2 separate regions of the Homo sapiens genome follow, and region 2 is linked to region 1. Evidence: fine-mapped QTL for protein levels in blood plasma. A gene starts in region 1. The other region holds a variant in brackets. All regions are shown on one strand. Distances are between the middles of the regions.

Region 1 (9,651 bases):
CAGGAAAAGCCCGCACCATGGCCCAGAGCCATGACTGCCCTTTCCTGGACCGAAAGAGTAATTTGGGAGGCTTCCTCGACTCCATCTCGCCTCAGAACATAATAAAATCCTAGGCCAGAAGTCCCCTCCTCAATACCGCAGAATTCCCCATCCCTACCCAGAACAGCCACTCTCAGGCCATCCCCCGGGAGGCCCTGCTCAGGGGAGCGCTACCGCAGGGAGACAGCGACACCTAAAGGCAGCGCGCTGCACAGCGGGCCTTCGCTCCCGAGAGCCCCCAGAGAACAGGAATCCATCCACTCCCGGTGGGACCAGCCAGGAGACCCATCCCTAGGGGACAACAGAGAAGAACAGCAGGGATGGGCCTGGGGTACAGAAGGCTTCTTCGGGGCCCAGAGCAAAAGACGTGCCCTTCTCCCACTGACCAGACCTCTGCCACAGAACAGGAAGGCTGATGGATGTGGCCAGGCTGAGACAAGACCAGAGAAGAAATCAGACCGGAGTTTGAGGCCCGGCACTGGCTGGAGAGCTGTCCTCCACACAAGCTGAGGCAGCGTCTTTCTTCCCCGGCTTCAGCAGATTCCTACCTCCCTGAGCAGGACCCGCGTACAGCCGGGCCCCCCAAGAGCAGCTGAGTTGACACGGCCCCGCCTGTACCTGCGGCCCCCAGCCAGCCCGTGGGAGCCTCTGGAAGAATATAACCCTGGGCCCTCCACTGACTTAACCACCCCGCCTCCCCATAGGCTAATGCCCTCCCACCTTGACTGAACTGAAGGCTGCACTGTCATGGGGGCCTGGAAATGGAACTTCCTGGCTTCCTTAGCCTTCTGTAGGCACAGAATTCACCGCGTGCTTAAAGGTCAGAAGATTAGCCCAGGGGATTCAGGGCATAAGGACGCTTTTTTTGCTTGTCCTACAGTTGGGCCTAGAGCCCCACAGGATGATCCTTACACAATCTTAGGGAGGCTCCCGTGCCAGAACTGAGGGCTTCCCCCATCCTGCCACCTGGCACGTGTGGCCAGGCAACAGACACACTCTGCGAAGGGCCGGGGCATCCATTCACCAAACCATCCTTGACTCTTCTAGTTCATTCCATGACCCCCAGAACCAATCAAGCCCAGCCAGAGAAAGGAATCCCTGCAGCCTGCAGCCTTTAGCTAAGAATCCTAAGAGAGTGAAGGGCAGGGGGTGTCCTGGTGATGTTTCCAAATCCTAAATTAGGAGAAAACTTTGATCCATCAAGACACAGGGAGTAGCTGCTAGAGACACAGGGGTAGAGGGGGGTGGAGAAGCGACACAGGGCTACAATTGCCCTACTGCATCCAACATCCCACCAGAGCTAGAATGTGTGCTAGAAAGTCAGTCGGAAGTGGCCCCCTCTGGCCAGCCCAACACCCCCACCCGAGTCACTTTCCCCTTCTCCTTCTCTCCCTGGGTCAGCACTGGAGGTCAAGATACTGGGCAAGAAAGGCCTCTCTCTCCACCATGGGTTATCCAGCCCAGACCTCACTCAGAATCTCAGTAGGGGCACACCAAAGGCCTTTGCCCCCAGCTGAAATTGCCCACCAAGTCTCAAGCCCCAGAAAAACCTCCCCCGACCCTCCACCCACCCACCCAGTGGGATTTTCAACCAGCTTCCTGCCAGGAAAAGGGCCCCAGGGCTGAAGTTTCCTAAACACCAACCCATCCCTTCCTTTCCACTGGCCTAACCCAAAGCCTTTCAGTATCTGTGGTCACTCCACTCAGCCCAGCTTTAGAAGGGGACTTCTCGAGGGAAGGAAACTGAAGGGCTGTGGAGCAAGGGGATGCTGAGCCTGCTGCTCTTCTGCTCTCACCCCCGCCTCTCAACACTCAGCCTCCAGGGTTGCAGACATTGGGTTGGGCCTCTCTGGTCATCTCCCATGCACACACATACACACCCACCACGAGCAGGAACCCCAGCCACTTCTGAAAAGGAGAAAGGTGGACTCCTTAGCCTGCCCGGCTGGAGAAAGCCTGCCTGCAATGACCAGGGGCCCACACTGCTCTTCTCCAGCCCCCGACCACAGATGGTGCCCACACCTGGGAGCCCTGCCCATGCTGGGGTATGCAGCTCAGCAGTAGGCAATCTGGCTGTTTTGCCTGAAATACAATTTTTTTTTCACCTTGGCCCTGATCATGCTTGGACCCAGAAGGCTGGGTTTTCAAGCTAGCAGTGGGAGAAAAAGGTCAGATTTTATAGTAGCCCCTTCAGAATGAGAGTCCACTTGCCAGGGTTGACAGGAAGGGCTTCGGGATCACAGCGGGCCCAGAGCAACTTCCAGCTTCCTAGAGGAGCCCCTCCCACCCCAGAGAGAAGCTGCCTCTGGCTGAGGGAGGTAGGACCTCTGAGGCCACACCCTAGAGCAGGGACTTGCCCCCTTGGGGACTCGCACCTGGCGGGAAGCAGAGGGGACAGGCAGAGAGTCCAGAGCCTGTGTGGACACCCAATGACTCCGGTCCCCTATCCTAGTCTGGCGAGCACTTCTTAGACCACGCACATCCTCCTGTAACCAGCTCCTACCTCCCCACTCGTGGCCTTCCCAGATCCCCTACTGCAGGAGGGAGAGGGTGAGATCATGACCCCGCTGGGCAGCCTGGCTCAACACTGGCTACACAGCAAGCCAAGGTGGTAGAACTACACCCTCACTGAAGCAGACGTGTGCTCCTTACAAACACACTCACACACACACACACATACACAGTAGTTACCCGGCTCCCTCTATGGGAGCGTCTACTCCCTGGCAGCAGCCCTGCCTGGGACTCCCGGTGGTGCACAGCCTTGCAAACAACCGCCTTTCCTCACCTCCCTCCGGAGATTGCCATTTCCCAAGCAGCTGCGATTTCACCTAGCTTTAAAGGGAGAGAGGAGCTGGGAATTCTGTGTGGAAAAGAAACTGCGTGGGGCTCAGTGGCGCCAGGCAGCCTCTCCTCCCTGTCTTGGAGGCGGCGGGGGGGGCAGTGGGGGGGGTTTGCAGAAGGAGCAGTGGTCTTTGTTCAGACCCGTTTTTCCTCCCTCGCCTCCCACCCTCTTCAACGGAGAAAGCAAACTTTGGCCTCCCTCCCGCCTCTTCCCACCAGCCACGGGGGTCCGCGGCCCCCAGAGGTGGAGGAGGGAAGGCCGGGAACGGCTGCTCACAACCCTCCGCTCCCGCCCACCCATCTGGCTCGGGGCTCGGTGGGGAGAAACTTGAAAAGTGTTCCGGGGAGTGGAGCCGCCGGTTAGGGGCTCAGGGCGTGGGGACGCGGGCTCCGTTTGCCAGGCGCGGCTGGCAGGTGGGGAGTGACTGCCAGCGCTCCCCGCGCGATGTCCAAGCGGGAGCCGCCGGAGAAACCCGCGCCCTCCACCACGACCGACTCGGGGAGCAGACCAGGAAAGGCGGACCCCGCAGGACTGTTCTCTCCCCGCCTAGGAGCCTCTCTCTCCCTCCCTTCTTGCAGATCAAGAGTTGGATATTTTTTTTTCTTAAGTTGCCGCAATTCGAACCCATTATTTCGGGGGAGATGCGCGCTATACTGGCGTGTGAGCGAGCGCGGGTGTGTGTGTGCGTGCACAGTGTCTGCGGGGCTGGTTCGGATGTTGAGTCTCCCTCCCGATCCCCCTGCGTCGCCAGCCAGCCGCGGCTCCGGTCCCTCGTCCGCGTCCCTGCCGCCCGGCCCCGCTCGGTTCGCCAGCACCGGGCCCGGCTAGCTCCGCGGCGCGCTCTCCCCGCCGACCTCCCGCCAGCCCCCCACCGGCGCTCCGCTCGCCCCCCGCCTCCCCGGCTTCTCGCCTCCCCCTCGAGCTCGCCGCCCGCAGGTACTCACCTAGAAAGAAGAAGAGGCAGAAGACGTTTGCCAAGATCATGTTAAATAAATCCCACCGTTTTTTTGTCTTTCTCCCTTGGGTAAAAAAAAATAATAGTAGTAACAACAACAATAATAATAGGCAAGCAGTGGTAATCAGCCCCAAATCCAATGCGGAGATCCCAGCTAGTCCACCCGATGAAGATCCCGAGTCCTGCGATTCTCGCCTCTGGCTGGAGGGGGTGGGGTGAGAGGCGGGCGATGGGCTGCTGCCTCTCGACGCCCCCCTTGCCCGCTACAATCAAATATACGCGTATCTGTGTATCGGCTTTCTAAGCCAACAGCCCAGTCCTGGGGTCAGCCCTCCCCTCCAATCGTCCGGGAAGGCGTGAGTCCCCGCGGGTCCAATTCCCCTGCGCTTCCCAGGAGGGGCCTGGGGAGGTGGGGAGAGAGGCGATTTGCGAGTGAAGGGCTGGAAGGAAGCGGCGAGGGAGGGGGTCGGAATAAAATGCAAATAGAAAAGAAATCCACAGACGGGTGTCAGCGCCCAAGAACAATCCAGTCGGAGCTTCGAGGACGAGAGACTGGAGTCGCTTCTTTCGCACCAAGACGAAGACAAGATTCAAAAAAATCTTCTCCCGCTAACCCTTGCTCGGCTCACTTTTTTCTAATGGAATTCCAGTGACCGTGTGTCTCTGCGTGCGTGTGTCTTTCTCTCTCCTCTCTCTCTCTCTCCTCTCCCTCGCTCGCTCTTTGCTCTCGCTCTCTCCAGCTCTCCCTCGCTCTCCTCTCTCCCTCCCCCTTCTCCCACTCTCCCTGCTCCTCCCTCCGCCCGCCCCCTTCTCCCTTCGCGGCTCCCTCGCCCGGGCTCTCGCGCCAGCGCCCCTCTCCTCCGCCCCGGGCTCGGCGCTCGGGCTCCCAGGCGGCTGGCGGCGCGGGGCGCGGGGCGCGGGAGCGCGGCGGAGCTACGATGCTCTGCAGCGGCGGCGGCGACAAGGCGAAGGCGGTGGCGGTGGCGGTGGCGGCGGCGGCGGCGCCGGGGATCGCGGGCCGAGAGGAGAGCCCAGCCGCCGGCTCCCTCGGCTCAATCGCCCGCCCTTCCTGGGACTGACCTGCTGCCTTGGCCGGAAACTGACTGGCTCCCCCGGCTACGGCTCGGGCTCGAACCCACTCAAGCGTCGGCACCCTCCTCCTCCTCCCCCCGCAGCTCTCCCCACCCTGGGGACCGGCTGCGCCCTCCAACCCCCACTGCCCCTGCCCCCGCCCCCTGCGCCGCTGGGTCTGGGAAGCCTGGGGAGCTGAGCTGAGGCTGGAGGGCGCGGAGTCCGTGGGGCCCGAGCCATCCGGGGGCTCGGGGGGCAGGGCGTTAGAAAAACCCCAGCCGGTGGCCCGGGTCTGAGGGGGGCTCCACCCTCCGTGGGCTAAGGCGTCCCTGCGCCCAGGAGCCGAGGCCGACAAAGCGTCTCCCCGATGGTGCCAGGGAAAGGAATTATCCCCTTCGGCGCCGGCCCCGCGCGCCCCCGAACCCAACGCATCCTGCCGGCCCCGGCCTAGCCCCGCGCGCACATACACGTGTGCTCTCCGCGCGGACCTCGGGAACTTTGCCCTCACGCCCGCGGCGCGCTTGCCTCCCGCCCGCCCCGGCCTCCACCCCTTCGAGATGCCCCTTCCCCAGCCGGTCTCCCCTCCCCCCGGCTCGGGAAGAAGCCTGCTGGGCCAGGGCGCCCTGACCACCTCCTCGGAGGCCGGCAAACCTGCCTGAACCGCCCCAGAGGAATCGGGCAGGGGCTCGCACCCCACCCCGGCAGGAGGGCCCCGAGACCGACCCGGGCCGGGGCTCCGCAGCCGGCTGGGCTCCGAGGAGCTCGTCCCGAGGCAGCTCCCGGCTCCCTAGGCTCCGGGGTTGGGGGGTTCCTCCTCCCCTAGCCGGGAAGGGGGCGATTGATCCATCTGTCGGTGGGCCGGGCTCACCGGCGTGTTTTAGTCGCAGAATTTACAATAAACGCCCAGAAGGACCTAAAAGGAAGCGTCTGGCTGGGAAAGGGCTGGAGGAGAGGTGCGGCTGCGGTCACGTTCCGGCGAGAGCGGGAGAGGCGCGGGGTCGCGGTCGCGCGAGGGCTCACACCCACGCAGCCCGGCATCCCCCGGCCCTCGCGCCACGTTCCTCGCACTCAGCTCGGCGCGCACACACGGTGTCCTGGGGTGGGGTACACGCAGCGCCTCAGAAACTTTTCGTGCTGCCCAAAACAATCTGGGCTGCACGTAACATGAATTTGATAGTACCGTTTAAGATGCATTCTTAAATAACAAGACTCTGGAATCCAGTAAATGCTAGAAATCGACTTGGACGAGAAGGGAGGGGTCACTAACAAAACCAGCAGCCTTAGCTATTGGGAAAGCTAGAGGGAGCAACTTCCATCTTGAGGATTTAGGCGGGAAGGCGGCTGCTCCCGGCCTTGGAAGCACAGAGAGCGAGTCTCCTGTGAACGCCTCTTTCCTGTGGTCCGTCCTGGGGCATCGACCTTCCTCCCTCCATCTTCTCCCCCAGCCATCCAGTTGTGCCTGCTTCGAGCCTAGGCCCTAGCTGGGTAGTGACGAGTCTGGGACAGAGGGCTTAGGGATTGGAGTTGGGGAAAGCCCCCTTCAGGCCTGCCCTCCCTGTCATTCCTCCAAGCCTCTCATGTTCTAGGAAGTGACTTCGCATCTGACAAGGTCTCTTGGCTTTTTTTCCAAAAATTGGGGAGCATAAGGAACCGGCTTTGGATAAGTGTAGGTTAAAAGATAAAACTTGACAGGAATTACACTGCCAGGCAGGCTTGGCCTGGAGGCCCGAGGCTGGGAGCCTGGCCTAAATGAATGTCCCCCCTCTCATCTCCTCGACTTCCAGGGTCTTCTGGTTGTCCAAATACTCCCCACCACCACCCATTTCGGAATCTCACGCAGGCCTTCCCCCTTCCAAGGACCCTGCTCCAAACTCCAGAATTTCTGCTCAGCATATCCCTCTCCCCTTCCCCACAAAAAAGAATTTCACTTTCTTTTAACTTCATTTGAGCATAATGAGAGAAATTCTCTGAATCATATATGTAGTTCTCCCCTCCCACCTATCCAGAAAATGGGGCTGAGAAAGCAGCAATGAAGCCCTGGGGATGGTTCTCACTGAGCTCCCACGGGAGTAGGAAAGAGGATTCCGGTAGCAGGAGGTAAGTGGCCCTTCTGCGACCCAAGACCACCCAGCCATCCCAAGAACAGTAGAGAACACCAATCAGTCACCACCAGCATTCAGCTTGTGTGACTGCAGGGCACTCTGACCTTGGACCCTCTCTTACCTACTGCCTATACAGACGTATCCCATGACACCCCACCCTCTGCCCACCCCAACACTCAACCCAAACTGCTCTTAAAAATGGCATCATCCCTTATTTCCTGAGCATCTGCCATGAGGAAGACCCCCTGCCTTGTGCCGGGATCTACAGAGGAAACACAGTTGAACATGTACTATAACACCTTATAGATAAGAGGACTTCTGAACCTCAGTCATCTCATCTATAAAATGGGGATTAAAAAAGATAAACCAACGTTGTAGAAATTACATAAGATACTACACAAAGCGGCTAGTACAATGCCTGGCCCATATAAAGTTGTTTACTGCTTTGCTCTGGGTTCTAGAAGAAGAATTAGGGACCTATGACAAGGCAATAAAACCTAAGGGGCAAATGAGAAGCAGAAACAAAAAGCTACAGGGGTTCAAGGGCAACAGAGACTATTAAGCAGCTGTCGTAAGAGGTAGTCATAGGAAAATGTGAAGTCTCTAGCAGGTAGGAGGCAAGCCCTAGGCTCACCAACAGACTTCCACACATTCCGTAGTGCCTGAGTCCTTTTACAGCCTTCCTGGCTCATTCCAGTGCTCCTGAGTTCACCAGCAGCTGAGCCTCCTGCCCACAGCCCCTCCCCATCACAGATCCTAGAGTCCAAATCTGCATGGGGAGGGAAAGGCAACACCGAATCCTTCCATTCCTTCCCTTTCTCTTATCTCTCTAGTCCTCTCTGCTTATGGAGTGGGTTCTCTGGATAGCAGGAGAGGGAAGAAGGACCAGTGGAGGGGAGGGCGTTGCAGCCCCACCCCAACACACGCACACATGCGCACCTAGGCCTGGGCCACACTGCTCACTGACCACAATCTTATTCCTTTGTGAAGGGAAGAAGGCTGAGGGTTCCCTGACCCCAGAGATAAAAATCGACCAGGAGTGAAAAGAAGGTGCCTCACATCCAGCTAATACTGTCAGGAGCCACAGAACTGGCAAGGTGGAAGTGTCCTCTGCCATGGGACAGAGCCTGATCCAGGGCACCCCACAATCAATCCATCAGCACAGACTTATTGAACGACTTCTCTGGCCCCAGCAGGGCCAACGGCTGTGGGGAATACAGCAAGACTGCCCCTCCCCTGAAAGCATTTATAGAGTCAAGCGTGTAGCTATGAGAAGATACTGAAAAAAACAAAGGCACAGTGGGAGAAAGGAAGAGTTGGTACCACTGGATTTCAGGAGTGCAATCAGAGAGGACTTGCTAGGGGTAGGATTCAAGCTGGAGCTGGAAGGATGGGTAGAATTTGGCTGAGCACAGAGGAGGACACTCCAGGTGAGCAAACAGCAGAGGCAAGAGCACAGTGATTAGAAAGTTCTCAGGAGGCTGGGTGTGGTGGCTCATGCCTATAATCCCAGCACTCTGGGAGGCAGAGGCGGGCAGATCACCTGAGGTCGGGAGTTCCAGACCAGCCTGACCAACATGGTGAAACCCCGTTTCTGCAAAAAATACAAAAAACATATCCAGGTGCGGTGGCGCACACCTGTAGTCCCAGCTACTCGAGTGCCTGAGGCAGGAGAACCACGTGAACCTGGGAGGGAGAGGTTGCGGTGAGTCGAGATGGCACCACTGCACTCCAGCCTGCGCAACAGAGCGAGACCCTGCCTCAAAAAAAAAAGAGAAAGTTCTCAGGAAAGGAACAATCCAGTGGGTGGGAGGAGCCAAGTGCACAGGTTGGGGAAGAACTAGAGGGTCCAATTGGGGTGCTCAAGTGGAGAAGAACCAAGCCTTGCAGTCTTCAGATTCATGCACCAGGAGCCGCTGAAGGTTTTTGAGCAGGCAACTGACATGATGAGAATAATGTTTTAGGAAGATTGATCTGATGACTGTGTGAGGGATGGAGACCAGGGGCCAATTAGGAGGTGATTGTAACAGTCCCAGGCAGAGGTAATGAGGGTCCAACAGGGAGTGGCAGTGGGCGTGGACAGAGGGAGAGGGTTGTCAGAGGCAGTGTAAGGATGAATTGGCATGATGCTGGAACACAGGGAGAGTCGCCAGGCCAAGACAAAGTGACCAGCCTAGCGGCTCAGCCTTTGTCCTTGGAAAAATAATAATTAAAGTAGCCAAATTTATGGCTAGATACAAGTTAATACTCCTTCAAATTCCTATAATAACTCGATGGCTATTATTAGGTACTATTAATAGCCTCATTTTCAAGTGAGAGAGGAGAGGCAAGAGAAGTGATTCAACTGCCCAAGGTCATATTTTAAGTGGCAGAATCTGGATTCAAACTCGGGCAGTCAGGATCCAGCACCCCCAACTGGTCAATTCTGTGCCTTGTATCGGACAAGAAAAGTGGCGGCTCTCCAGGCCCACACATGTTCATATTCCCCTTCACAACACCTAAGATATCCTCTTCCTCCCTTCCCTATCCACAAATAGTGTGAAAAAAATCATGAGAATCAAAGTTTTTTTTTTTTTTTTTGAGACAGTCTCGCTCTGTCACCCAGGTTGGAGTTCAGTGGTGCAATCATAGCTCACTGTGGC
Region 2 (9,651 bases), 96 kb before region 1:
AAGTACTTGAATCATCCAATACAATTTTGTAGGTGAGGCAACCAAGATTGAACAAGATTGCCTGAAAGTCACCGTAAATGACTAGAAGGCAGCCATTCCACCATGTAAACCCACCACAGAGAATGTCATCAACCTTATTTACCAGTTTGGCTTCTAAATGACTTTGGATTTTCCTAAAAAATTTAATCCATTTTTAAAAGATGAATGGGCCAGTCACGGTGGCTCATGCCTGTAATCCCAGCGCTTTGAGAGCAGAGGTGGGTGGATCACCTGAGGTCAGGAGTTCAAGACCAGCCTGGCCAACATGCCGAAACCCCATCTCTACTAAAAAAACAAAATTTACAAAAATTAGCTGGGTGTGGTGGCAGGTGCCTGTAATCCCAGCTACTTGGGAGGCTGAGGCAGGAGAATCGCTTGAACCTGGGAGGCAGAGGTTGCAGTGAGGCAAGATCGCACCACTGCACTCCAGCCAAAAAAAAAAAAAAAAAAAAAAAAAAAAAGATTATCTACCCCTACTAAGACTCTAAAAAAATGGGCAACAAACAGGCGATGAATCTGTTTACTTGTATTAACACAGTATGGGCCAGGAGCATGGGTGGGTCACACCTGTAATTTCAGACTTTGGGAGACTGAAGCAGGGGATCCCTTGAGGCCAGACAATTAGGATCAGCCTGGGCAACATAGTGGGATTCCATCTCTACCAAATAATAAAATGAATAGGGTGTGGTGGCACACACCTGTAGTTCCAACTACTTAGGAGTCTAGGGTGAGAGGATCACTTGAACCCAGGAGCCTGAGGTTGCAGTGAGCTATGATCACACCACCACACTCCAGCCTGGGCAAAAGAATGAGACCCTGTCTCAAAAAATAATAATAAAAATATTTAAATAAATACACAAATTTTTTAAAATATGCAGTAAGTGACCAGCCTCAGCATCCTTGGGAGGGGCAGCCCAATTTCAACTCACTTCACAGATCAGAAAATGCTGGTAAAGAATTTCTCCAGCTGGCAGGGAACACTGGGGCTTCAATCCTCATGAGTAAAGGAAAGTCTTCATCTTAGGCATTCGACAGTCTGTGGCTGGGAACTAGAGACAGGTGCATATGTATGGATGCACACGCACACACACACACACACACACACACACACACGCCCCTTCAGCATGAAGTGAAGCCATCGGTGCATGCACACAAACACATTCACACAAAGCCCCTTTGGCAGAAGTGAAGCCATGGGTGTGTGCGCACACACACACACACGCACACACACACACACACACGCACACACACACACACACACAAGCCCCTTTGGCATGAAGCCATAGCAGATGGGCTATGAGACCCTCAGAGGCAGGAACCAGCAGGCAGCCGACACTGGGAGGCTAAACCAGAGACCCGGTGGGCTCCTCAGTGAGCAGGCGAGTCATGGGCGAAAGTCCAGATTGGCCAAAGATGTCCATCCTGGCAGGCCTAGGACCACCATCAGGAAGGTCTGTGGGAAACAGCAGGGCACCTCCTCAGCCTAAGCATCCCCGTCAAGGCAGGACCAGCAAATGCAGGGCTGAGCCCCGTTCTGGGAAACCTGTGTGCCAAGCCGATAGCAAAGGCAGGGCCTGGGGTGCCAGGAACTAAGGTGACGACCCTGTGTTTGGTCTTGATACCAGGTAGGCGCCCTGCTGTGAGGACCACCGTGGGTCAACGTGGGACCTGCGGCACTGCTCACTCAATCCTGAGCTTCTGAATTGGCCACCTATATGACTTCACACTTGACAAGGTATCAGAGCCTAGAAAACGGAGTGAGCCAGACTTGCAGATAGAGGCATGCCCCTGATCAGGAATCCTCAGGGGGCTGGTGGCAAAAAAAAGCTAATTTTATACACTTTGCTGACTAGGGGGTAAAGGCACAGGGCCCTGGATTGCATGTGTCTGCAGTCTCCCACAGCAACTCTAAGAAAATCTAGAAATCAGTCTCTGGTGGCTGAGCTTGGGGGCTCACGCCTATAATCCCAGCACTTTGGGAGGCCAAGGCAGGCAGATTACTTGAGGTCAGGAGTTCGAGACCAGCCGGGCCAACGTGGCGAAACCTTGTCTCTATACTAAAAATACAAAAAAAAATAAAAAAATTAGCCAAGCATAGTGGCACACACCTGTAATCCCAGCTACTTGGGAGGCTGAGGCACGAGAATCGCTCGAACCTAGGAGACAGAGGCTGCAGTGAGCCGAGATCGCACCACTGCACTCCAACCTGGGTGAGAGTGTGACTCTCTCAAAAAAAAAAAAAAATCTATCTCTGGTGGTCCCTACCAAACTTTCCATGATTCACTTCCTGTTTTTGGTCCCTCAACCCCAATTTCAATGTCTAGACTCAAATGTCTTAATGTTACTAGAATTCATTCACACCATTAAATTAACTAACATTAAGATAGCAACAATTTATTCTTCTAGTTCGATTTGCATATTTTGAGAGAATCACAAATAGGAATCATCTCAACCAAAGGAATGAATACCTAATGGTAAAATTTCAGCCATGTGATACTTGGATAGGGAGACATTTGAGGGCAGAGTAAAGCTAGCTAGTATCCACTCCTCCTTCATAATGGCACCTCAGTTTCCTCTTGGGAAATTTTCTCTCCCCCATGATGTAGCCTAAGGGCTTACCTCCTATTAGGGATACCAGACATGACATATATATCCTCTCTCTCACACTCAAGTATGGCAGAGGGCAGGCACAAGGCCCAGTTCAGCCAGATGGGCAATGGTTGGCAGCAGAATGCTGACCCTGTACATCCTGCCTTCCAGCCCCTCAGATGCCCTCCAGTCCCTGCCCTCGCCTCCCCTGGTCCCCCCACCTCCCACAAATTCCGTGAGCCACCTTCTCCCATAGCCTTCCAGTAAAGTACTTTTTAAGTTAAATGGTCTTTGCTGTTTGCAAAGAACACGGATTCCTAAGTGGATGCCATGACCACGTCTACCCGCAATGGCTGGACAGAGACCTGGCTGGCTCACTGTACCCCTTCCATGCAGAGGCTGGAAGGCAATACACCACAGTGATAAACGCTGTGAACGGATGCTGCTCACACATATACAACCAGAAGCAAAAGCCATTGAGGGGACCTGCGATTGGGAGATGGGAAAACTGCATCCTATTGTCCAGTTGAAATGGGATGGGCTCACATGCAGCCCTGAAGGCCAGGCTGACAGTAGAAACATCTTCTCGCCTACCAGTCTTCCATTCTCCCTCCTGCCATGGGTATATATTCACACGTGCACGTGAACATGTGCGAGCCTGCACACGACCGCACACACATGTACACATGCTCACATACATGGACACACACACACTTGGCCAGCAGGCATTCTCCTGGTCCTCTCTGGGGAGAATCTCTCTTGGAGACTATGGCAGGCCTAGTGTCCAAGTGGGGCCTGGGTAGCAAATGGAGAAACAGGAAAGGAAGGAATAGAGGGAGACCCAAAAAATACTTATGCTTTCAGACCATGACCCCAGAACATGCACAGTCATGTCCTTCTTCTCTGGTGGGACCCAAAAGGCCAGGTCACTGCACTCACAATCACACATCTCAAATAAGCCAGGAGTCCCAGAGGGACATACCACTTTGCTCTATGTAAGACTAACAGGGCCACCCAGACAGCCTGACAATAAAACATTCCCAACGTGTGATGCCAAGCTGTGGCTCCCCACCACGTCCACGTCCACTGCATTCTCTTCCAGCCTGGGAGCCACAGGCATTTGCGCCAACTGGAGAAGTGAGCAAAGAGGGAACAGAACAGCCCACCAGGCTCAGCACAGCGTGGACCCTCAGATCCCGCCCCCAGTGTCAAACCAGCTCCTAAGAGAGCTCCATCTACACACAATGTGGACACATGGGTGAGACACATGGATGCACACACATGCACACAGGCACACACACGGACACACATTTCCCCAGCCCACTGGGAGCTCCACTTACGCAGGTAACACTGGACCAAGAACAAAATGGGGGCAAAACCCCACGGGACCGAGGCAGAGGCAGCTTGCTTCCTAGCACGTTTATTGGAGCCTTGGTTAAGCTTGGATGCGGATCAGGAGCCCCCACCAGAGCCCAGCCAGGCTGACTGGGGCAGGGCACTGCGGGGCCAATGTCCTTTTTCCCCATTATAGACAACAGTATTAAAAAAAATAAACTTTACAATAATACATTTTCGCTCATCTGTTGGGGTATTATTTCCATAGTTTTGTTGCTTAAAAAAAGGAAAGAAAGGGGAAACCACACAATATATGTATATGGATGTGTATATACATATATGTTAGGAGAGGAGCCCCGGTATGTACATACAGTTGACGTACGTCTAGGAAATGAGGAAAGAGAAAGGGGAAAGGAGGAGGAGGGAGAAGACAGCAGGAAAGCTTGAGGGCCCACGGTGCTGCAGACACACACCCGGCTGTGGTCTCTCCCCTCCCTCTCCCCAAAGGGAGGCCTGCCAAAGGACCCACGAGAAAGCAAAGAAGCCAACAAAGGACCGTTTCTCTCTGACTTCAAAATTTCTGCCACCGAGAAAGAAGCTGGTGCCCAAGTTTTAATGCCTCGCCACAAGGGCTCTCCCAGGCAGGCTGAGCTCTCAAGCCCTCCTGGAGCTGGCCCCCAGCCCCAACACTCCGTGCTACAGTCAGGGGGAGCCCAGCACGGTGCGAACCCCCTCCACCGCCATCCGTGGGGAAGTTCCCACACCAGCTGCAGACCCACCAGCCCCACCCGAGGGCAGAGAGGGAGGGCAAAACCATCTCCATCCTTGAAGCCAAAGGGCTGAAGGTGGACCCTCATGGCCAGCCCCGCTGCCCCGCTGACCGATGCCCTCTGCCAGCCCCCAGCGGGTCCCCAGAGTGGGCAGCCTGGGGAAGCAGCTGTGTTGTCCTGCCCCCAGCCAGCCTCAGGCACAGCCCAGAGTCCCTTCCGCTGCAGGCTCTTGTCCGGTCTCTGCTTCAGAAGGGTCCAGAGAGAAAAACACCAGGAGAAAGTGAAGGGCATTTCTAGAGCCTCGTGCCCTCCCCGGCACCAGAGTTTCCCCTGCCAGGGGACCCCTGGGCCAGCTCTCAGGCTGCCTGCCTGCTTGTCTGTTTGGTTTACAAAAACTTCTCCAGAGAAGAAACCTGGGAGGAGACAGGTTCAGCGACAAGGTGGGAAAAACAATTTTTTTTTTGCAAGGTGTGTGTGTGTCTGTGTGTGTTTCCATTTCGTCAGGCGGCTGTTCTTGTCTGCGTAGCTTTCAAAAAT[A/C]TTCTGACTCGGTTCCCACAGCCTACAAGGCCAGTTTCAGCATCAGGACAGACAGCACGGTCAAGGCAGCCGACGGTCTGGCTCTGCTGGGGCCTGAGTTAGGTTTGATCACCTTGTTACTCCCTGGGATGATATTTGTCGTGAGCTGAGTCCGCAGCAGGAGAAGAATCAGGAACAAAGAGAATGAAAACAAAGAAAACAGTCAGGAGGCCTGGGACCCGGCAGAGAAACGGACTCAGGAACTGGACACCTCAAGCCCCTGTCCTCTCTTCCACCCACAGGGACCCTCCTTTGCACTCTGAAGGGAGCGCTGACTCTCCCGGAGCTGGCCCAGGCAGGAGCAGAAGGGAATGCTCTGTCCCTTCTGGTCACAAGCCCTGGGGTTTGGAGAGGAGGGCAGTGGTCACCAGGATAACAGGCTACTCCTCCCTGCATCAGGGCTGAGGACCTGCGTCCCAGTGAGGAGGCAGATGGTATAAAGAGCTGAAGAAGGAGGAGAGAAGAAGAAGGAGAGGAGAGAGGAAGGAGAGGGGAAGGAGAGAGGAAGGGAAGGGGAGGGGAGGGGAGACAAGGGAGCCCACATTCGCCCTGTTTCTCAATTTCTTCCAATCCCCACTCCTCCATGAAGCCCTCCCTGAACATCTTTGTCTGAGTTTCTCTTTCTTCTGTGAGGTCTCACACTGCCTTTTCTTCTCATCTAAGTTACTGTCTTGGGTCTATAAGTCATATATATATATACGTCATATACATGAGATATATATATTTATATATACGTCATATATATGAGATATATATATATTTATATATATATTTATTTATTTTTATATATATATATATTTCCTATAGTGGGGGTTTCTTCAAGGGAAGAACTGTGTCTGTTTCCACTTCTGTGCCTCCTAAATATCACAGCAACAGTGCCGAGCAGGTGGTCGACACAACTGTCTTAAGAGAGTAAGGAAGGCATGGGAGGGCCTCTGCTCAGAGCAGCCATTTGTCTCTCCCCAAGGAGAGAGCCAGGGGCCCTGGATGCAGCCTTCGCACTCCCCCACCCCACCCCAGCAGAGTAAGTGCCCACCCTGGTCCAGAAGCTCAGCTGGCCCAGCCCATGCGATGAGATTTGAGGGCGCTGGATCTGAGGCTCGCCGGGGAAATGCCGCCCCCCACCGGCCCAGCCTTCTGCACCCATCCCCACTCTGCCCCCAACTCACCTCTGTGAAGCACATGCTTAACTCTTTGGAGTTGTTGGCCTTCAGCCCCTGCTCCTGCGAGAGAGAAGGTGCCAGTCAGGACGAGTCACCAGGCTGTTCCTGGCTGGGCTTTGTCCAGAGACTTAGATGAGGCCCCGCCATGCACTGTTGGCTCCGCTAAGCACAGCCAGCGCACACGGTGAAGAGGGTAGCTCAATTCCACCCAGCACAAAAGGCTTCTGCCCTTCTCTGACACCCTCAGCAATTAGGACCCGACTCCTCTGGCTCCTGGAGAACAGAGTTCTAACTCTGCTCCCAACTAGCGGCATTATATAGTCATCAGCCATTCGCATGTCTGTCCATATACTCAGCGCAACTCTTGGGCAGGGACCATGTCTTCTTTTCCTCACACTGAGCAGTGTCTGGTTCATAACAACAACTCAACAAATGTTTCACTAGATGCCTGCATCCATGAATGAATGAATGAATGTCACAGATCATAAACAGCCTCCAAGAGCCAACTCCTGTTAATTTGCCATGGCTGATGGAGGGCTCTATATAAAAAGATCATGAGCATTCATCTGGGCTTGAGGGGAAGAGAGGCATGATTGATTAGTGATGTCTGCCACTGGTCCATTAGGTGGATATCTGGCAACTGCACCAGCCCATTTCTGTCCTACACGGATGTGCACACCTGGGAACACTGTGGGCAAGGTGAGGGACGAGAAGGGCTGCCTTGGTAATGATTCCAAGATTGTCTACCCTGGTGTGGCCACCTGGATGCAGGGCCAGAGGGCGCACATGATGAACGGCCCTCTGTTATCATCACTGTAATGGAGATCCATGGGAACCAGCTGGGGATGCAGCGCTTCCATCCAGGATTCAAATGGCTTGTTCCCAGGGCACTTCCAGGGAAGTTCTGGCCACCAAAAGCAACTGGGAAGCCCAAGAAATTATGCCGCAATCACTGCCCTCGGCCAGAAGTATCAATAACCCCTTGGACATCACAGGCAATCTACCACCCAGGGCATCTGGTCAGCTAAACAAGACCCCAGCTGTCACATGGAGACGCTGGCCAAGAGTAGAGTCACTGCCAATGGTGGAGATAGGACCACGGTGATGATTAGCACAGCGAGAATGGAACCAGGAGTGTCCCCAGGTGCCAAGGTGATGCCCAGCCAACTCCCCAGCTGTTGCCCTCTGCAGAAGGGCACGTGCTCGACAACTCTTCCAGACCCAAGGCCTGGACTCCACTCCCCAGGACTTGGTGCTGTTCCAGCTAAGACTGTGAGGCCACGGGGAAGGGTGTCAGGGAAAAAGAACACGCCCACCCCCTCAGAGGCTGTGCTGTCATAATGGCCTCGCATCTGTCCTCCCGAGTCCCTTGGCCAATCCTTGCTCAGTCACCTCAGTCCCTACTTGTGACATCCTATGGCTTGTTGGAGTCTGTGCCTGTGGCCTGACACCTACGGACACCCAGCGTCACTTCCTACTCTCATTGTTTCAGGTGTGGCAGGCCAGTCCCCGCCCTTTCTGGGAGTCCATGTCTTATCCCTACATCCCTACCCCCAACAGAGCTCACTAAACCATTGGGAGCCCTCTCCTTTGTCCCCTCCCCATCTCCTGTGTCCCCTCCCCCCTCTCTCCCCTCCCCCTCCTCTGTCCCCTCCTCCTTTCCTGTCCCCTCCCCTCTCCCTCTGTCCCCTCTCCCTCTGTCCCCTTTCCCTCTTTCTCCCCTCCCCTCTCCCTCTCCCTCTGTCCTCTCCCCTCTCCTCTGTCCCCTCCCCTTTCCTCACTAAACCAGTGGAGCCCATGGGGAATCACAGAGGCAGAAGCTCCCTGCACTCAAGATCCTCACCCCCATCCACCATAACAGCTCCATTTTTATTTGTTTTGTATATTGGAGTCTTAGCTGTTTTGTATATTGGAGTCTTAGCTTATTTGTATATTGGAGGTACGCATAAAATTGTTTGGATAATAGTCTACTGCTTAACAAAATAAGGCTTGAGAAAACAACCGACAAGAAGGGCCCCAGGGTGGGGCCTGCACAATGTGCTGTGGCTGTGGGTGCCACTCTCAGGGGAGCCCCGGACCTAGACACTCTGCAGGGTTACACCCGAGGTCAGCCCATGCAGAGCAGCTGGCAAAGCAACCAGCACACACCAAGTGCATTTTCCCTGGCCTGGGAGCTTGGCCAGGTGTGGAGAGAGAGGATCTAAAGGCCGACGCTCCAGAGAGCAAAGGGGGCCTGCAACTGGACTTTGCTCCTCGGAGTGAGCAGAACTTGACAAGTTCCTCTTAAATAGGATAGAGTGGAGGGGACACTGGCAAGTATTACACAGGAAAAATGACAGAGAAGAGGAGAGTGAAGAAAGGGGTGGAAGGAAGAGAGGAAACCAGGTGAAGGGAGAAGCAGAGAAATGGAAACAGGAAAGAGGAAGAGGGGGAGGGGACAGAGTGAGAGGAGAGGGGACATAGTAGAGGGAAGGGGACAGAGGAAGGGGGAGGGGACAGAGGAAAGGGGAAGGGACAAAGGAGAGGGCAGGGGAGAGAAGAGAGAGGGGACAGAGGGAGAGATGAAGGGACAGAGGAGAGGGGAGGAGACAGAGGAGAGGGAAGGGGACCGAGGAGGGTAGATGGGACAGAGGAAAGGGGAAGGGACAGAGGAGAGGGGAGGGGAGAGAAGGGGGAGGGGACAGAGGGAGAGGGGAAGGGACAGAGGATAGGGGAGGGGACAGAGGAGAGGGAGAGGGGACAAACGGAAAGGGGAGGGGAGGGCATGGTAAGGGGAGGAAGCTGAGGGAGAAAGATAGCAGGAGGGGAGGGGACAGAGGAACAGAAGACAGAGGGAAGAAATAGAGGAAGGAGGCAACAGAGGGCAGGGGAGAGAATAAAGGGGGAGGCAAGAGGGCTGAGGACAACCACTGTACCCTCTCATCTGATGCTGATTATCAGGGGACAGTGAAACACCTCCCTGGGCCATCCCAAGGGACATCTGCCCCAAGGTGTGGTCTCTGCCAGGGGCAACAGGGCCCTTGGGTGGGAGTGTTGCCCAGCAGCTGACCTTTCCTGAAGGTGGCACCTAGTGGCGGGAGGGGCAGAGAGAAAGAGAGACCACCTCTGATGCCAAAACCACCAGTGTCTCAAATTCAGTGCCTCCCTGCCCTCCAGGGGCTCATACTCTAATAGAGAAA

Evidence for each region. PIP is the posterior inclusion probability: the model's chance that the variant is causal. Protein levels are from the aptamer-based SomaScan assay of Sun 2018.
Region 2: its variant is fine-mapped to the plasma level of the GFRA2 protein (Sun 2018, PIP 0.95).

Annotation. Positions count from the first base shown.
Region 1 is chr8:21,784,295-21,793,945 of GRCh38, forward strand. It overlaps GFRA2 (GDNF family receptor alpha 2), which reads right to left and starts at 4,581. Exons shown (of 9, transcript NM_001495.5): 1 at 3,826-4,581. The coding sequence starts at 3,865.
Region 2 is chr8:21,687,986-21,697,636 of GRCh38, forward strand. GFRA2 (GDNF family receptor alpha 2) reads right to left here. Exons shown (of 9, transcript NM_001495.5): 8 at 6,479-6,532; 9 at 2,413-5,415. The coding sequence ends at 5,293. Among named protein-coding and RNA genes, the nearest start is that of GFRA2, 96 kb to the right of the region's middle. RefSeq lists an enhancer at 4,834-5,334. The variant A/C (reference allele first, on the strand shown) is at 5,271.